Homo sapiens: one gene and its partner. The main gene of each other region encodes a partner of the protein of the gene in region 2 in a complex. Each region holds a gene or a part of one and is shown on either strand. Other genes may lie near its edges.

Region 1 (5,062 bases), on a different chromosome or scaffold from region 2:
CTCGATCTCCTGACCTCGTGATCCGCCTGCCTCGGCCTCCCAAATTGCTGGGATTACAGGCATGAGCCACCACGCCCGGCTTGTTTTGTTTTTTAAAAAAAATTGGGGCCAGGTGCAGTGGCTCACGCCTATAATCTCTGTACTTTGGGAGGCCTAGATGGGCGGATCACTTAACCTCAGGAATTCAAGACCAGCTTGGGCAATATGGCGATACGCGGTCTCTACAAAAAAATAGAGACGAGGGAGGAGAGGGGTGGGAGTGTGGGAGCTGAGGTGGGAGGATCACCTGAGCCCAGGAAGTCGAGGCTGTAGTGAGACATGATCGCGCCACTGCACTCCAGCCTAGGCGACAGAGTAAGACCTGTCTCAAAAAAAAAAAAAAAAAAAAGATTGGACTAGATGACCTTTAAGGTCCCTTTTAACTATAATAAGTTATGATTTTTCTCACTCATGAGAAATGTTTATCTCCGTAGTAAATAAGTAAATAAAAATTAGTTCATATGTTCCAGTGTTCTCTGGAAAGTAGACGTCTTTATTACAGCATACTCTCTTTACCACAGGATTTGCAATAATTTTGTAGGTTGTCTTAAAAGCTCTGGGTCTTGGAGGGTAGCTCATGTCTATAGGTGCAGCAGGGCCAGGAGGGATAGCTTAACCAGTATTATACTTGAGAATAAATTTAGCATGATAATAATGAATGAGAAAAGAAGGATGCTGAAAACTATATTGTGATCCCATTTTTGTAAAACAAGCAATGTGAAGAAACTTCCAACCCTGATATGTGGGTGTGTGTGTGTGTAAAATCTGTGTAAGATTATGTGGGTAAAGAGAAGAATATGGAAGAAACCACACTAGATTGTTATTGTAGATTTCCTGAGTCAGTAGCAGGGCAGGAGGAAGTTTAGATACCGAGTTGGGAAGAAGTAGAGTGCAGAAAAGAGATATTCTTAAGTAAAACCACACATATGAGATCTCATTTGTGTAAAATGATATTTTTGTGTATTCATAAAAAAATTAATGGAAATACCACCTGCAGGCCTTTTCCAGGTGAACAAAATAAAAAATCCTACTCATTTCAGTCCTTTTTTTTTTTAGAGAAGGATGTGGGGGATTTGTCCCTATGTCTCTGATGTTAGAAACAGGATTTGGGGGGCGCTGGGCGCAGTGGCTCACGCCTGTAATCCCAACACTTTGGGAAGCCGAGGCGGATCACCTGAGGTCAGGAGTTTGAGACCAGTCTGGCCAACATGGCGAAACCCCATCTCTACTAAAAAAAAAAAATAATAATACAAAACTTAGCTGGGTGTGGTGGCGTCTGCCTGTAATTCCAGCTATTGGGAGGCTGAGGTAGGAGAATTGCTTGAACCCAGGAGGCGGAGGTTGCAGTGAGCCGAGATCATGCCACTGCACTCCAGCCTGGGCAACAGGGTGAGACTCCATCTCAAAAAAAAAAAAAAAGAAACAGGATTTGGGCACTCATCCCTAGATGTTTGAATTTACTGTACATTCCACTTCACTCTCTTATCTTAGAATGCATTAATGTTTTTTCTTTTACTTTTTTTCCCACTTTCCAGTTGGAAATCTACATTTCTGAAGGAACCCACTCAACAGAAGAAGACAGTAAGTGAATGTTGAAACATAATTGAAAAACAACTTCAGATAGTATTTTATCTTGGATACTGGATTCTTCTGCCAGCCAAGAATCTACTGGGTTACTTTCAAAAAAGTGCACAATTGGTTATTGGCTCTTCCTTCCTAGGTGAGGAAACCTAGGCATTTCAAAGAAGTAATTTTTGCAGTGGACTCCGAGTGCACTAGAGCCCACGGATGTTGACTGGTTTAGGCCAGTGGCTACACATCTGTAAAGAATATCCAGTGCTGGGGACCTTGACTTATGAGCTCTAAGTAGGCTTCTTTTCTTTGGTGACAGGATAGAGAGCTGTGTACTTGAAATTGAAGGTCTAGCAAGTAGAGCTTTAGTGAATCTTGGGGTAGGTGCTGTCTCTCTGGGTTAGTATATTAGAATGGGAGTGGGGAACCTTTTTTATATAGAGGACCTCTGGCCTACAGAGAGAAATCAATCAGTAGCTACTTAAAAATAGCAGAAGTGGGGTTTGGGAAAAGCAAAAAACAAAATGTTCTGTATGATCCCTGTGTTACATTAAAAACATAATTTTAATGTTTTTAATCTACAAATGATAGAGTGCAAATAATGAGAAATACATTTAAAAGGCATGTTGTACTTAAGTTTCATCACTAAGTAAATTGAGAAGGTGGGAAAAAATAGCAGAGGAATGGAAGAAAGAGCTAATAGAGGAAGAGCAACAGTGAGATAGATACCAAGAAGACTCAGAAAGGCATACACAGGGCTGGAGAGAGACACACAAAATCTCCTACATAAAAGAGAGCTATAGAGAGGGAAGCCTGCTGCTTCCAGAGGAACAGCCTATCCAGGAAACTTTTTAGGTACTGTCATGAAAACTGTTAAAAACCATGCCCTATTTATAGTTCTAGACATGTAGATTATTATACTCTTTGTGGGCTGAATTTCTTTAAACCCCACGAGCTGAGGGCTTCTACCTGTAATTTAGAAAAATAAGAGTTTAGGTACCCTAAATCCACTCAGGTTATCGTTTTGAAATTCCTTGAATGATAGGATTTTACAGCAGCAATAGTATTAAGTCTTATGAGTCTTGTTTTTCATTTAGTAAGTATTTATTAAGTGCCTTCTATGTGTGGGTACAGTTCAGCCTTTGAGATACATTCCTGCCTTTGTGGAGCCTACATTGTAGTAGGAAGAAACCAAATTGAAAGTATTTTCGCAGGAATATGTGTATGTTTGTGTGTCTTCTACATGAGACATTTCAGCGGCAGCCCAGAAAACTCAATCCACATTAAGAATATAGTCGTCTCTCTTTTGAACTCTTCTATTAAGAATGCTGTTAGCTAATTACAGAAAACATAATGGGCCAATACCTTTATTATATGAAGATCCATTCAAACTAATTTTAAAAAAAGATCTAGTAGATTAATAGAGACATGAACAGGAAATTCATGCAAGAAGAACTAATATATGCACATGGAAAATGTTCTATTTTCCTATTAGTCAAGGAAATGCAAATTATGACAATAATATTGAGCCGTTTTCCATCTCCTGTTTTATGTATGTATATATGTGTATTTGTTTTTATTAAATAATACCAGCTATTGCCCGGGCATGGTGGTTCACACCTGTAACCCTAGCACTTTGGGAGGCCAAGGCGAGAGAATGCCTTGAGGGAAGGAGTTTGAGGCCAGGATTTCAAGACTAGCCTGGGCAACATGGTGAGACCCTGTCTCTACGAAAATATTTGAAAATTAGCCAGGTGTGGTGGTTCATGCCTGTGGGAGGCTGAGGTAGGAGGATCTCTTGAGCCCAGGAGTTGGAGGTTACAGTGAGCTATGATTGCACCACTGCACTCCAGCCTGGATGACAGAGCAGGACCCTGTCTCAAAGAATAATAATAACAATGATAATAATACCAGGTATTGTTGCCAAACTGATAGCTCATGTATTGGTGTTGACAATATAAACTGGTGAGTAATTTTAGGAAGTAAATCAATGATATGAATCACACCATAAAAATATTCATACTCTTAAAAATAATCCCATTTTTGAGAATATTTCCAAAAAGAAGGCTATATGTTTAAAGGTATTCATTGTAGCATAGTCTTCATAATTACTTTAGAACACTTAAGACTTTTACCATGTTAAATAACCCTGTAGTTTAAAATATAGGCTTATGGGGGAAAAAATAGCAATTTTCAAAATTATATTTACTCTGAATGTAACTGTATAAAAATATGTGTATGGACAAAGACTGGAAAGAAAAAAATAGATGTGGTTAAGTAGTAGAATTCTAGTAGATATTTTTCTCTTAAGTCTGCCTTCTAGATGGGAAATTACATTATGAGTAATTAGCCAAAAACAGGTTTAAGTTCTCAAGGAGTTAAAGTTTTTGTTTCAGCAGGCTAATAAAAATACTGTCTGGTGCTGTATATTGACACAGTTCTTCTGCTAACTTTTGTCTGTGTATTTTTCAGTCAATAAGCAGATAAATGACAAAGAGCGAGTGGCAGCTGCAATGGAAAACCCCAACTTACGGGAAATTGTGGAACAGTGTGTCCTTGAACCTGACTGATAGCTGTTTTAAGAGCCACTGGCCTGTAATTGTTTGATATATTTGTTTAAACTCTTTGTATAATGTCAGAGACTCATGTTTAATACATAGGTGATTTGTACCTCAGAGTATTTTTTAAAGGATTCTTTCCAAGCGAGATTTAATTATAAGGTAGTACCTAATTTGTTCAATGTATAACATTCTCAGGATTTGTAACACTTAAATGATCAGACAGAATAATATTTTCTAGTTATTATGTGCAAGATGAGTTGCTATTTTTCTGATGCTCATTCTGATACAACTATTTTTCGTGTCAAATATCTACTGTGCCCAAATGTACTCAATTTAAATCATTACTCTGTAAAATAAATAAGCAGATGATTCTTATAATGACTCACTGTTTTTATTGAATTGTAAATTCCAGTGTAAATGTCAACTCCTAAAGGATATCTTCAAAGCTTTATTTTTGCTGATTATTTTGTAGAATCAGAGATCTGAGAACCAAAAGGAACCCTTAAGATTGGGCCTTCCTTCCTTCCAAGGAGAGTCCTGGACCCTTTCATAGATAAGGAACAAATGTGGAGAAGGCTAGATGGCATACACAATTTTGAAGATCAAGAAGTCCACCAAAGAAGTTTTGATTAAACCAACCTAAATGTATGGTCCGCACTTTATCTGTCCTTCATTTGGTTTGTTTTAGGGGTTAATGGTCATGTGAAGTATAGTAGCCTCCAACATGGCCCCCAAGATCCTCACTTCCTGGTATTCATGCCCTTGTATAGTTAACTTCCATATTGAATTGGAGCTGATGGGTGTGGCTAATAAAGAATGGCAGAGTGACAATGGGTGACTTCTGAGGCTAGATCATAAAAGGTATTGCTGTTTTCACCTTAGGCTCTTGG
Region 2 (7,288 bases):
TTGCCTTCCATTGCAGTGCTCTGGGGACTGTTGAACACTTCAGCCTATAAAGGATAGCAGGGCAAAGAGTGCTGTGGAAAAGTAGTCTAGAACAGTGGTCCTATTCTGAGGTTGTAGCACAAGAGAACACTTAACAGATGAGATGGATGAGATCTGTTTATTTTTCTCAGTGTGCTTTCTGGATACCCAATGGATTAAGCTCTTTAAATCTGCCCCAGGAGGCGGGGCATGGTGGCTCACACCTATAATCCCAGCACTTTGGTAGGCTAAGGCAGGCGGAAAACTTGAGGTTAGGAGTTCGAGACCAGCCTGGCCAATATGGTGAAACCCTGTCTCTACTAAAAATACAAAAATTAGCCAGGCCTGTTGGCACATGCCTGTAATTCCAGCTACTCGGGAGGCTGAGGCAGGAGAATGGCTTGAACCTGGGAGGCAGAGGCTGCAGTGATCCGAGATTACGCCACTGCACTCCAGCCTGGGCAACAGAGGCCTTGTCTCAAAAAAAAAATCTACCCCAGGTTGGCTGTGTATCACAGCTTAGTCAGGGATATGGAATGCAGTGGCTTCCTTCTAACCTGGCCTCTGTCTCTTCCCTAGATCAAAGGCCTCTGAATGGCTTCAAGGACCAGCTGTGCTCACTGGTATTCATGGCTCTAACAGACCCCAGCACCCAGCTTCAGCTTGTTGGCATCCGTACACTGACAGTCTTGGGTGCCCAGCCAGGTACATCTTAAGGGAAAGAGAAGAGGAAAATATTGGTCCTTTTCTTGTAAGACTGCCTTGGTGAAAAGCAGCCTTACTATCCTCTTCTTACTGCAACTCTGGATGATTTGGGATTTCTAATAAGAGCTTAGAAGGGTTGTGATGGCTGCAGGGGAAGAAAGATGAGATTCATGTTCCCTTCTAACTACAGATCTCCTATCTTATGAGGACTTGGAGCTGGCAGTGGGTCACCTGTACAGACTGAGCTTCCTGAAGGAGGATTCCCAGAGTTGGTGAGAATTTAAAGCAATGAGATAGAGCAAGCTGTTCCCTGCCTCTGTATTGGCAGCAAAAGATCAAGCTAGGACCAGGGCTCTGTGCTTCTGACCCTTGGCTCTCCTTAGGGGAGGTGAGCTCTGTGTTAGACTCTGGCTGCTAACCAGTTGGAGAGATGTAGGACTGCTCTCTTCTTAGGCTTTAAGAAGCCCTGTCCAACTCAGTGGTGTAGGTACTTGAGTTCTGCTCTTTAGCAAGGAGGCGTTGGGAGCTCACACTCCTGAATCTGCCTAATATCAGACGTAGGCAAGAGAGCTGTGAGCCCAGGCTCAGCCAATGCTTATCTGCTCTGCGCCTCCAGCAGGGTGGCAGCACTGGAAGCATCAGGAACCCTGGCTGCTCTCTACCCTGTGGCCTTCAGCAGCCACCTCGTACCCAAGCTCGCTGAGGAGCTGCGTGTAGGTATGTGTCTCTAATCCTCTGTGGCCCATCCCTTTCCAGCAAGGCTTTGGGGCCTTCGTGCTTCCTATCACACAGTAAACCTTTGTCTCATGGGTTGCTTTCAGGGGAGTCAAATTTGACTAACGGAGATGAGCCCACCCAATGCTCCCGGCATCTGTGCTGTCTGCAAGCCTTGTCAGCTGTATCAACACATCCCAGCATCGTCAAGGAGACACTGCCTCTGCTGCTGCAGCATCTCTGGCAAGTGAACAGAGGTAACTACTAGGAATAACCACCAACGGACTGGGCTGAATAGGGAGCTGTAGTCTCTAAGGCAGTGGTTCTAGCTGTAGCTATACATAAGAGTAACAGAATCAACTCTTTTAAAAGAAAAAAAAAATACTGATGCCTGCGTCCAACTGAATCAGTCTCTGAGGAGGGATGGGACTTAGGCAACAGTACTATTAAGAGTACCCGGCCAGGGCCGCTGCTCTTGCCTGTAATCTCAGCACTTTGGGAGGCCGAGGCCAGCAGATCACTTGAGGTCAGGAATTTGAGACCAACTTAGCCAACATGGAGAAACCCAGTCTCTACTAAAAATACAAAAAATTAGCTGGGCATGGTGGCATGCGCCTGTAATCCCAGCTACTGGGGAGGCTGAGGCAGGAGAATCTCTTGAACCCACAAGGCGGAGGTTGCAGCGAGCTGAGATTGCGCCACTGTACTCCAGCCTGGCCAGCCTGGGCAATAGAGTGAAACTCTATCTCAAAAGAAAAAAAGGGTTGGGCGCAGTGGCACATGCCTATAATCCCAGCACTTTGGGAGGCTGAGGCGGGTGGATCACAAGGTCAGGAGTTTGAGACCAGCCTGACCAACATGGTGCAATCCCGTCTCTACTAAAAATTATCTGGTCATGGTGGCAGGCGCCTGTAATCCCAGCTACTCAGGAGGCTGAGGCAGGATAATCGTTTGAACCTGGGAGGCGGAGGTTGCAGTGAGCCAAGATCATGCCATTGCACTCACACCTGGGCAAACAGGGTGAAACTCCATCTCAAAAAAGAAAAAAAAAAGTGCCGGGCTGGGTGTGGTGGCTCATGCCTGTAATCCCAGCACTTTGGGAGGCCAAGGCTGATGGATCACTTGAGCTCAAGAGTTTGAGACCTAACCAGCCGATGCAACATGGCGAAACCGCATCTCTACAAAAAATACAAAAATTAGCCAGGAGCAGTGGCATGCACCTGTAGTCCCAGCTACTTGGGAGGCTAAGGCAGGAGAATCACTTTGAGCCCGGGAGGCAGAGGTTGGAGCAAGCCGAGATCGCTCCATTGCACTCCAGCCTGACCTGGGCAACAGGAGTGAAGCCCTGTCTCCAAAAAAAAAAAAAAAAATTACCTAGGTAATTTTCATGTGGGATCTGAATTGAGAGGCATCACCCTAAGGCCGTGGTGCTCAAAAGATGGTCTGTTAACCAGCAGCATGGGTGACATCTGGGAGCTTGTTAGAAGTGCAGAATCTCAGGCCCTCACTGATCAGAATCTGCATTTTGACAGTGTACCCTGGTAACTCGTAGACTGTTGAGTTTGAGAAGCACTGCTCCAATGCAAAAGTGACAGCAGCCTGCCCTGTGGGTAGATTCAGGCCCACTGTGGTTGATCCAGCAGCTGTTACATAGTAGAATGAATACTAGACTTGGATTATAACTTGGGCTTGATTCCTGACTTTGCACTTCCTGTGACCCTGGAAAAGCCACTGATCATGTATTTCATTGTGCCTCCATGTCCTTCTCTATAGAGTGAGGGAAATGATACTTCTAAGGTTGTTATGAAAAATAAGGAGAGAATATATACAAGTGCTTCTGCTGCAGAGCCTGGGACAGAGCAAGTCTCAACTATGAAGTCTGAATAGATCAGAAAGAACAGCCAGGAGAATAAAGTGACTCAGCTTTTTAATAAGGCACTCTTGGTCCCTTCAGTCACTCTTCTTTGTTCCTCTCATCTGCTGTGTAATTGGAAACACCTGAAAGTGCTTTTAAGCAAACCTTACAGAGAACACTTTCTCATCAACAGGGAATATGGTTGCACAATCCAGTGACGTTATTGCTGTCTGTCAGAGCCTCAGACAGATGGCAGAAAAATGTCAGCAGGACCCTGAGAGTTGCTGGTATTTCCACCAGACAGCTATACCTTGCCTGCTTGCCTTGGCTGTGCAGGCCTCTATGCCAGGTAACTTTCCACCTCTCCTTCCTGGCCTTTGGGAACTTTGCCCTCTGCTGGTGTTGAACAGCACCACCCTCTGGGTATTGGTGGTACTGTATTTTGTACCATCAGAGGTTTATTTTCAATCCTTTGTCCTCAGAGTGAGATTTCACTTCATAGCAAAGGGTGCCACCCTGACCAGTGGCAGGAACCAAAATCCACTAGTGTTAGCAACATTCAAAAGAATGCACACCTTTTCCCCATGAAGTGCTATGTGATTAGTTTACTTAGAATTGGACTCTGGAGTCAAGCCCACCTGGTTGGGTTTTATCCTCAACTCTACCACTTGCTAACTTAGGTGAAGATATTCAGCCTTTCCACGCTTCAATTTCCTCACTTGTAAGATGGAGATAAAGAGTACCGTCTAGGCTGGCGCCATGGTTCACACCTGTAATCCCAGCACTTCAGGAGGCCAAGATGGGAGGATCACTTGAGTCCAGGAGTTTGAGACCAGCCTGGGCAACACAGGGGACCCTGTTTCTACAAATAGTCAGACATAGTGGTGCACACCTATAGTCCCAGCTGCTCAAGAGGCTGAGGTGGGAGGATCACCTGAGCCCAGGAGTTCAAGGCTGCAGTGAGGCATGATTGTGCCTCTGCACTCGAGCCTGGGTGACAGAGCGAGATCCTGTTCCTGTCTCAAAAAAAAAAAAAAAAAAAACTGTTTCACAGGGTAGTTGGTAAGGATTAAATAAGTTAGTGTATAGTACCTGCCACATAGGAAGTACTCAGTGTATGATAGTTGCTATAAATAATAAGGACCCATGAAGATAAATCTATGTTTTTAATTTTTTCAGAGACCAACATTACTATTTTTTTTTCCTTGCATCTCCAGGGACACCAGGGACAACATTTCTATTTCTTATGTTAAGAATGTTCATCTTAGCTATCCCTCTTTCCCACTGTTGGCCTAGTCTAAAGACTGTGCAGAGTTCTCAGGAGCGCTCTGTGGCCCCAGGTCAGACCACTCCTGTTTCTGGTGCCCTGATTCTCAGGACTATAGCACTACCAGAGACCAGATTAAGAACTGCTGTCGTGGCTAGAGTCAAGCCCCAGAGTCAGTGATGCTGACAGAACCCAATCATTCATTTCTTGAACCCGTCATGGTCTTGTGATTGTGTGCATGTGTGTGTGTTTTGCAGAGAAGGAGCCCTCAGTTCTGAGAAAAGTACTATTGGAGGATGAGGTGTTGGCTGCCATGGTGTCTGTCATTGGCACTGCTACAACCCACCTGAGCCCTGAGTAAGTATAATCATGGATGTGGCTTGAACCCAGGGAGAAGGATAGCATTCTTAGGAAGAAGCAACAGGTAGCTGCCTTGTCAGCTGTCCTTTTACCTATATGTAAATGTGGTGCAGTTAATCGTCTTGTAAGTTTTGTTGACAAAACAAAAGGAAGGGGCTCTTAGCACCATGGACTATGAGGGTGGGAAGCCAGGGCCAGTGGTTCTTAGCCGCAGATGTGCTTAAGAATTACCTGTAGAGCATTTTAAAATATACCTTGACTTCCCAGATGGGAACCTGAATGGAAATGATTACTGGCACATATGTGCCAAATTAATATTTGTTCAATGCATGAATGATCAGGGCATGTCCCATTGACGTGGTGATCCTAATTCAAACCCTAGGTTGAAAAGCACGTCTGTGGAGGAGAGGGCTGCTTTAGAATCCTAGCTCCTTGGTCATACCTAGTACTCTGCCCCCAGGTTAGCTGCCCAGAGTGTGACACACATTGTGCCCCTCTTCTTGGATGGCAACGTGTCCTTTCTGCCTGAAAACAGCTTCCCGAGCAGATTCCAGCCATTCCAGGTAACAGTCTTAGAACTTACATCCTTCAAGCTGGTTTTTTTTTAGGGCTAATCTGGAATGGGTAGAGGGGCAGACAAGCTTATTGCTGGCAGGCTTGATCGGGCTCTCCTTCCTTTATAGGATGGCTCCTCAGGGCAGAGGCGGCTGATTGCACTGCTTATGGCCTTTGTCTGCTCCCTGCCTCGAAATGTAAGTGAGCACATTTGGGAAGTACTGTTATTTAACCTTGACAAGGTGACTCCGGGCTGAAATTTGCCACAGGCTAAGCTGATCTTTTACTTCCCCCACCAGAGAAGTTAGTTCTCATCCGTCCCGGTCCCTGCTGCCACTATGTACTGGTTCTCTTGGAGTTCAAGTGTTCTCTGGGTCCATTACATGGCCAGGTTTTCTGTAGGTGGAAATCCCTCAGCTGAACCAACTCATGCGGGAGCTTTTGGAACTGAGCTGCTGCCACAGCTGCCCCTTTTCTTCCACCGCTGCTGCCAAGTGCTTTGCAGGACTCCTCAACAAGCACCCTGCAGGTACTGAGATCAGACTATGTAAGGAGCCTCCCAGAATCAACTACCCATGAAATCTTATAGCTCAGTACTCATTCTCTTTTTAAAAGGAGCTTGCTAATAACATTAACAGGGCTTCAACTGCTCAAGCACTGTCCTGGGACTGCCCGTGGGAAAAGCGTCAAGACCACAGTTGGGCAGAGCTTTATAGTACCTAAGAAGAGAAGGGAGCACAAAGAGTCTAGTTCTGCCGTCCTACTCCCTACAGTGGGGCTAGTGTGGATAATTCTTTATTGGAAGTAGATGACCCTCTCTTTTCAAATGGCAGCACCTCTGTATTATGAGAATACCAGGCTCTTATGCAGGTGTCCAATCATTTTGTCCACAGGCAAAAATGATATTTTCCCTTTCTAACAGCTTCTCAGGGAGCTCTGCACTTAAAGTGATTTGCATTTCATTGCTAAAGGGAAAATGTGTAGCCTTTATGTCAGCATTTCCTCTCTCCTTTTTAGGGCAGCAGCTGGATGAATTCCTACAGCTAGCTGTGGACAAAGTGGAGGCTGGCCTGGGCTCTGGGCCCTGTCGTAGTCAGGCCTTCACTCTTCTTCTCTGGGTAAGGAGTTGGAGTGGAGTCTGGTTAGCCAGAGAGGCAATTATGTCTGGTTAAATAAAATGTCCCTGTTTGACCCTAAACCATAAACATCTATGTCTCAGGGTTCTCGGGTTTGAGTGTCATTCCCCAATTGCTCTCTCTGTCTCCAATTACAGGTAACAAAGGCCCTAGTGCTCAGATACCATCCTCTCAGCTCCTGCCTTACAGCCCGGGTACGTCCTTTCTGGAGACAGAAGAACCCAGGACCTAAACAAACTTTCTGGTTGCTCCTATTCCTCCCAAGGACTTCCATCCTCCCCTGTGTGTTTTTTGTTTTCTTTTCTTTTTTCTTTTTGGAGACAGGGTCTTACTCTGTCACCCAGGCTGGAGTACAGTAGTGCAATCACAGCTCACTCCAGCCTCAACCTCCGTAGGCTCAAGTGATCCTCCCACTTCAGCCTCGCAAGTAGCTGGGACTACAGGGGCACCCCACCACACCCAACTAATGTTTGTATTTTTTGTAAGAACTGGGTTTGGCCATGTTGCCCAGACTCCTAGACTCAAGCAGTCCACCTGCCTTGGCCTCCCAAAGTGCTAGGATTACAGGCATGAGCCACCACACCCGGCCCCATCCTTATCTTTGGCACTTAAGATTCTTCTTCCCTGATGTACCTCAAAGGCTCTTTTTTCTCCAGCTCATGGGCCTCCTGAGTGACC

Evidence for each region.
Region 1: MMS19 (region 2) and CIAO2A share a complex: the UniProt entries of both Homo sapiens proteins name them as parts of the CIA complex.

What each region holds. Positions count from the first base shown.
Region 1 is NC_000015.10:64,072,050-64,077,111, reverse strand, and holds the end of CIAO2A (cytosolic iron-sulfur assembly component 2A), read left to right. Parts: intron 1-1,574; coding exon 1,575-1,620; exon of another isoform or gene 1,621-4,083; coding exon 4,084-4,181; 3' UTR 4,182-4,547; downstream 4,548-5,062. UniProt on the Homo sapiens protein: Component of the cytosolic iron-sulfur protein assembly (CIA) complex, a multiprotein complex that mediates the incorporation of iron-sulfur cluster into extramitochondrial Fe/S proteins.
Region 2 is NC_000010.11:97,460,211-97,467,498, reverse strand, and holds part of MMS19 (MMS19 nucleotide excision repair protein homolog), read left to right. Parts: intron 1-597; coding exon 598-723; intron 724-913; coding exon 914-995; intron 996-1,339; coding exon 1,340-1,440; intron 1,441-1,544; coding exon 1,545-1,694; intron 1,695-3,485; coding exon 3,486-3,641; intron 3,642-4,816; coding exon 4,817-4,916; intron 4,917-5,379; coding exon 5,380-5,482; intron 5,483-5,602; coding exon 5,603-5,671; intron 5,672-5,876; coding exon 5,877-6,003; intron 6,004-6,491; coding exon 6,492-6,592; exon of another isoform or gene 6,593-6,679; intron 6,680-6,747; coding exon 6,748-6,804; intron 6,805-7,266; coding exon 7,267-7,288. UniProt on the Homo sapiens protein: Key component of the cytosolic iron-sulfur protein assembly (CIA) complex, a multiprotein complex that mediates the incorporation of iron-sulfur cluster into apoproteins specifically involved in DNA metabolism and genomic integrity.